Homo sapiens: one gene and its partner. The protein of the gene in region 1 interacts with the protein of each later gene in a pairwise test. Each region holds a gene or a part of one and is shown in the gene's direction. Other genes may lie near its edges.

Evidence for each region.
Region 2: the proteins of CARTPT (region 1) and CEACAM1 interact in binary tests that used the Homo sapiens proteins (3 or more experiments, as listed by UniProt).

Annotation. Positions count from the first base shown.
Region 1 is NC_000005.10:71,717,943-71,721,545, forward strand, and holds CARTPT (cocaine- and amphetamine-regulated transcript protein preproprotein), read left to right. Parts: upstream 1-1,332; 5' UTR 1,333-1,351; coding exon 1,352-1,510; intron 1,511-1,937; coding exon 1,938-2,021; intron 2,022-2,565; coding exon 2,566-2,673; 3' UTR 2,674-3,103; downstream 3,104-3,603. UniProt on the Homo sapiens protein: Satiety factor closely associated with the actions of leptin and neuropeptide Y; this anorectic peptide inhibits both normal and starvation-induced feeding and completely blocks the feeding response induced by neuropeptide Y and regulated by leptin in the hypothalamus.
Region 2 is NC_000019.10:42,514,982-42,518,481, reverse strand, and holds part of CEACAM1 (cell adhesion molecule CEACAM1 isoform 1 precursor), read left to right. Parts: intron 1-3,378; coding exon of another isoform or gene 3,379-3,471; intron 3,472-3,500.

The DNA of each region.
Region 1 (3,603 bases):
GTTGGTGGTGAACTATGGAGTAGAGGAAGGCAAGAGAAGATAGGGTGGGGATTAAGTGGTAGACATTAAGTTGACTGGGGCAGCTGTCTAGGACTGGGTTGTAGTAATGGGGATGGAGAAGAGTGGATGAATTTAGGAACAGTTGAGGGAAAGATGGTGTGGTGAAGGAAGCCAGGTGAGCAAGCAGGTCTAAGCGGGAAAGCATTGCTTTTCCTACAGGAATTTTCCTGTGCATTCAGGCTGTAAGGATCTCAACTTTTAAAAAAGCCACATTGTTCTCCCAAGTTGTTGGGGAGCTGGTTCACCATTGACTTCTGATCTCTGGAGATATTTTCATAATCATGGAGCTGTCTTTCTTTTCACTCTTTTACTCTCTTTCTAGACAGGCTTCTTGGATACCAAGGGTTGGTGGTGGGTGGGGGGAGGTTCTGGGGATGGTTAAATTTGCCTGGGCAGCCTCAAAGTTCAAAAAGGAGGGACAGGGAAGCTTAGCTAAGAACCAGGAGTTTGACATACTTAATCTCTCATTTCATCCTACTGATGACTTTGTGAGGTATATCTTTTTAATCCTAGATCTACAAAAGAGAAAGCTGAGGCTTGGAGAGGTTCTTCATTTTGTTCAAAGTCATACAACTTTTACGTGGTGTAGCCAGGATGGGAACCAGAGCCTGGCTCTCTGCACTTCCAACACCACTGCTGAATCCGGGTTTGTCTGTTTTCCCTCTCTTCTTTTAACTATTGTCACACAGATTCCATCATAGAACCCATCACGTGGAGGGCCACTATTTCTCTTTCTTTTGTATAGTATGTTTGCTTCCCCTACCCCACAGAGTAAGGTGCTCAGCAAATGTGGCTGTCTGGAGGCAACACCCCCTTCTCACCGCCACACTTGGGGTTGGGGTGCGAGGCAAGGCAGGGCTGGCGAGGTGGATGTTGCAGCTGTCACCACTGCTAGGTGTTGGGAAACGACTCTCCTGCCTGTGCATTGACCCGAAGGCATTTTCCATTTCCTAGGCCCCTCCCGCTTCCCGTCCCTCACCTCTAGCCCCTCGGCTTCAGCTCAGGCCCCTCGGGGAGCATCCCTTGCCGTGAGACTGACAGCCTTTGGGGGCGCAGGGTCCTGTTCTCTGCGCTCTAGCCCATCTGTGCGCAGAGCCTCGTTCCCAGGCGCCTGGAACCCGGCGGGCATTGACGTCAAGCGCCGGCGGAGCGCTGCCTACAGACGGTTGACCCGGGCCCTCCTCCACACCCCCTTCCTTCTTCGCCTCCTCCCTCTTTCCTGCACGGGGGCTCGGGCTCACTATAAAAGGTGGGAGCGCGTGGTGCCCCAGCAACGACGAGTTTCAGAACGATGGAGAGCTCCCGCGTGAGGCTGCTGCCCCTCCTGGGCGCCGCCCTGCTGCTGATGCTACCTCTGTTGGGTACCCGTGCCCAGGAGGACGCCGAGCTCCAGCCCCGAGCCCTGGACATCTACTCTGCCGTGGATGATGCCTCCCACGAGAAGGAGCTGGTCGGTATTCCCCTCGCTCTCGACCCCCTTGAGCTGTCGCCTTGTCTCTTCTCTTGCACGCCTCCCTCCTCCCCCCACCCCCACTCCTATTCCCAGAGTCAGGGCGCGGGGAGCTGAGCGCAACGCCCAGGCACCCACTGCCATCCGAAGAGCGTCTCGAGCTCACGGGCTCCTGGCAGTCTGTTGAGCGAATCCCTCATCCCGGCCCCTCTGAGCAACAGGGACCCCAGCGGCTCAGAGACCCGCGGTCAGTACCTGGGACAGCGTCCGCTAAGTTTCCACCCCTCGACCATTCCCTGTGTCCGCGGAGTCCCACCGCAGAGTGCGTGTGGGTCCGGGGCTCCTTATAACTAGGGCTGGAAGTGCGCACCTGGGCTGGGCTCGCAGCCAAGGCGGCAACTTCAGGCTCCGAAGCGGTGTGTTGCAGATCGAAGCGCTGCAAGAAGTCTTGAAGAAGCTCAAGAGTAAACGTGTTCCCATCTATGAGAAGAAGTATGGCCAAGTCCCCATGGTAAGGTTTGTGGTCACTCCCTTCCCGTGTTTTTCCAAGAGAAAGTACACCGCCTTGAATCGTACACACAGTCTTCTCCGTAGGATGTGGCTAAATAACTTAGGTAATGGGCTTGCAGGATTCTGTGGGCTCCTTCTTCCTTCCCGGGTGAGGAAATGGGAAAGCAGGAACAGGGGTTGTAAGAAAGTGTAAGTCTATTGTTTGTTGCTCAGGAAAAAGGTCTGATTTTTTTCCCCTCTGAGAGGGCAAGAAAAGGAGCCAGGAAATGTGATGCTCCCCTTCCCACGCCCCCCAACCCTCGCCACTTAAAGGTGGAAGAAACTAGGATAAAACTAATAATGTAAGTTTCTTTAAAAAATGTACTCTCACTGAGGTTATAAGCACAAGGCTCCCTGTTTCAGATCTGACTGTACGTAGACCTCTTGTGATGGTGATGGGGTCCAATTGCCCCTTTCAAGAGACAGAAATTGCGTTGACTGTGAGACTTGCCTGTTGGGAACCTGGGTTTGTTCATACTCGATGACCACACATTTTGTTGTTTCAGTGTGACGCCGGTGAGCAGTGTGCAGTGAGGAAAGGGGCAAGGATCGGGAAGCTGTGTGACTGTCCCCGAGGAACCTCCTGCAATTCCTTCCTCCTGAAGTGCTTATGAAGGGGCGTCCATTCTCCTCCATACATCCCCATCCCTCTACTTTCCCCAGAGGACCACACCTTCCTCCCTGGAGTTTGGCTTAAGCAACAGATAAAGTTTTTATTTTCCTCTGAAGGGAAAGGGCTCTTTTCCTGCTGTTTCAAAAATAAAAGAACACATTAGATGTTACTGTGTGAAGAATAATGCCTTGTATGGTGTTGATACGTGTGTGAAGTATTCTTATTTTATTTGTCTGACAAACTCTTGTGTACCTTTGTGTAAAGAAGGGAAGCTTTGTTTGAAAATTGTATTTTTGTATGTGGCATGGCAGAATGAAAATTAGATCTAGCTAATCTCGGTAGATGTCATTACAACCTGGAAAATAAATCACCCTAAGTGACACAAATTGAAGCATGTACAAATTATACATAATAAAGTGTTTTTAATAATTGCCCATAGTGCACTGCTGTTTTCATATAAGTAATTTAAGTGGAAATGGTGAGATTAATCATGCTGTTGTTTTCAAAGAAAAATATTTTAAAAATAGCAGCCTATTGGGAAAATGGCACCTTAGCTCCAAGGAGTTTTGATCGTTAATTAGAAGTTTGCCAAGCCAGTTTTAGTATACTCTATTTTTCTTTGATTGCAGCGATGTGGTGTGTGTATGTGTGTGTGTATGTGTGTGTGTGTGTGTGTGTGAGAGAGAGAGAGAGAAAGAGAGAGATGAATGAGATGGAGATGGTTGGAGTTGAGGTTATATAATTTTGTTTATTAAAACCTTTAGCCAGACCCTTTACTTTAAACAGTGAGACCAATAAACTATAAACAGTTTCATGTTTTAGTCACATTAAAAGCAATTTGAAAAATTAGAAATTTTGTTTTGACAACTCCCTTATTAGAAAATATACATTGATTTAAAGATATGGGCTGTTTAGGGTTGTTATTTGTCTA
Region 2 (3,500 bases), on another chromosome or scaffold:
ATCAAATATACATATACTTAGTTGGTTTTTTTTGGTTGGTTGGGTTTTTTTGTTTGTTTTGTTGTTTTGAGACAGGGTCTCACTCTGTCACCCAGGCTGGAGTGCTGTGGTGTGATCAAAGCTCACTCCCGCCTCAATCCCCTGGGTTCAAGCAATCCTGCCACCTCAGCCTCCAGAGTAGCTGGGACTACAGGTTGCACCACCATGCCTGGCTAAGTTTTTAAGTTTTTTTGTAGAGTTGGGGTTTCACTGTGTTGCCCAGGCTGGTCTCAATCTCCTGGTCTCAGCCTCGGCCTCCCAAAGTGCTGGGATTACAGGAATGAGCCACTCTGCCCACCCCGTATTTAACTATTCTAAGTACCTCTCATACAGATGGAAGCATGCAATATTTGTCCTTTTGTGTCTGGCTTACTTCATTTAGCACAATGTCTTCAAGCTCCATCTATGTTGTAGAATGTATCAGAATTTCATTCCTTTTGGAGACTGAATAATATTATGCTGTGTAGATAGATACATCACATTTTGCTTATCCACTCATCCATCTATGGACAGTTAGGTTGCTTCCACCTTTTGGCTATTATGAATAATGCTATTACAAACATGGGTATACAAATATCTGTTCAAATCCCTGCTTTCAGTTCTTTTAAATAGATACTCAGAAGTGGAATTGCTGGATCAAATGGTAATCCTGTTTAATTTTGAAGAACCATCATACCATTTTCCACAGTGGCTATACCATTTCACATTCCCACCAGCAATGCACTAGAGTTCCAATTTCTCTACATCTTCAAAAACATTTGTTGCTTTCTGGTTTTGTTTTGTTTTTTATAATGGCCATCCTAATGGTTATAAGGTGGTATATCATTGGAGTTTTGATTTGCACTTCCCTAATGATTAGCAATATTTAGCATCTTTTCATGTGCTTATTTGCCATTTATCTTCTTTGGAGAAATGTTTATTCAAGTCCTTTGCCCATGTTTTAATTAGGTTGTTTGGGGATTTTTGGTTGAGTTGCAGTAGTTCTTTATATATTTTGGATATTAATCCCTTATCAGATATATGATTCTCAAATATTTTCTCCCATTCTATAAGAAGTCTTTTCACTTTTGTGATAATGTGCTTTGATACACAAAAGCTTTTAATTTTCATTAAGTCCAATTTCTCTACTTCTTCTTTCGTTGCCTATGCTTTTAGTGTCATAGCCAAGAAATCATTGCCAAATTCAATGTTCCAAAGTTTTCACTCTATCTTCCAAGAGCTTTATAGTTTTAGCTCTTACATTTAGGTCTTTTATGCATTTTGAATTAATTTTTATATATGGTGTTACATAAAGGTTCAATTTCATTCTTTTGCATGGATATCCAGTTTCTTCAATGCCATTTGTTGAAAAGACTATCCTTTCCCCACTGAATGATCTTGGCACCCTTGTCAAAAAACATTTGGCTATGTATGCAAACATTTCTTTCTGGGCTCTATATTTTATTCCACTGGTTTCTATTTCTTTTTGCCAGTACCATACTGTTTTGATTACTGTAGCTTTTGGATTTTGTTTGTTTGTTTTATTGTTGTTGTTTGGGTTTTTTTGTTTTGTTTTGTTTTTTTGCTTTTCTTTGTAGAGATGGCGTTTCACCATGTTGCCAAGGCTGGTCTCAAACTCCTGAGCTCAAGCAATCCACCCGCCTCCACCTCCCAAAGTGCTAAGATTACAGGTGTGATGATTACCATAGCTTTGTAAAAAATTTTGAAACCAGGAAGTGTGAGCCCTTCAACTTTGTTCTTTTTCAAGATTGCTTTGGCTATCCATGGTCCCTTCAGAGTCTATATAAATTTTAGAATGAATTTTTCTATTTCTGCAAAAAATATTACTGGAATTTTGATAGAGATTGCACTGAATCTGTAGATCACTTTGGGTAGTACTGTCATCTTAACAATATTAAGTCTTCTAATCCATGAAAATGGGGTGTCTTTTCAATTTATGTCTTATTTAATTTCTTTTGGCAATGTTTTGTATTTTCAGGGTACAAATCTTTCACCTCTTTGGTTAAGTTTATTTCTAAGTATTTTTAAAGCTCTTATAAATAGAATTTTTTTCTTAATTTTCCTTTGAATTGTTATTAGTATACAAAAATACAACTGATTTTTGCATGTGGATTTTGTATCCTGCCACTTTGCTAAATTTATTATTCTAACAGTTTTTTTGTGGAATCTCTAGGGTTTTCTATATATAAGTTAGTGTATTCTGCAAACAGGTATAATTTTACTTCTTTCCAATCTAGATGCTTTTTTTTTCTTGCCTAATTGTTCTGTCTAGGTCTTCCAATACTACATTGAATAGAAATGGCAAAAGCAGGCATCCTTGTCTTGTTCTTGATCTTAAAGGAAAAGTTTTCAATCTTTCACCATTGACTATGATGGTAGCTGGGGGTTTTCACATGTAGCATTTATTATGTTGAGAATTTCCTTCTATTCCTAGTTTCAGTGTTTTTTAGCATGAAAGAATGTTGAATTTTGTCAAATGCTTTTATCGACTCATTTTCATTACTGGTTATAGGTCTATTCAGATTTTCTATTTATTCATGATTCTATCATGGCAGGTTTTGTGTTTCTAGGAATTTGTTCATTTCATCCAGGTTATCCAATTTGTTGGCATTCAATTACTCATAGTACTCTTATAATCCTTATTATTTCTGCAGAATTAGTAGTAATGTTTTACTTTCATTTCTGACTTTAGTAATTTGAATCTTCTTTCTTTCTTAGTCAATCTAATTAACAGTTGTCAATTATAGTGATCTTTTTTGAAGAACAACTTTTTTTTTTCGGTTTGAGACAGGTTCTCACTCTGTCACCGAGGCTGATCATGGCTCACCACAGCCTCAACTTCCCGGGTTCAAGCAATCCTCCTGCTTCAGCCTCCTGGGTAGCTGAAACTACAGACAAGCACTACCACCTCCGGCTAATTTTTGTAATTTTTTGTAGAGACAGGGTTTCACCATCTTGCCCAGCTGGTCTCAAATTCCTGAGCTCAAGTGATACACCTGCCTCAGCCTCCCAAATTGCTGGGATTACAGTCATACACCACTGTACCTGGCCTACAGTTATAAATTTCTTTCTTGCACAAGATTCTTAACTACTCTGAGCCTCGGATTCCTCAACCGAAAATTGCACTGTGAATGCCTGCTCCATAGTATTGCACGGGTTTGGGGTTTTTGTTTTGTTTTTGAGACAGGGTGTCACTCTGTCACCCAGACTGGAGTGCAGTGGTGCAAACACAGCTCACTGCAGCCTCAACCTCCTGGGCTCAAGCAATTCCCTCACCTTAGCCTCCTAAGTAGTACATACTACCACATCTGGCTAATTTATTTTTATTTTTGTTTTCAGAGAGACAGAATCTCACCATGTTACCCAGGCTGGACTCGAACTCCTGGGCTCAAGCAATCCTCCCATCTGTTTCCCAAAGTGCTGAGATTACAGGTGTGAGCCACCACGCCTGGCCCCATAGT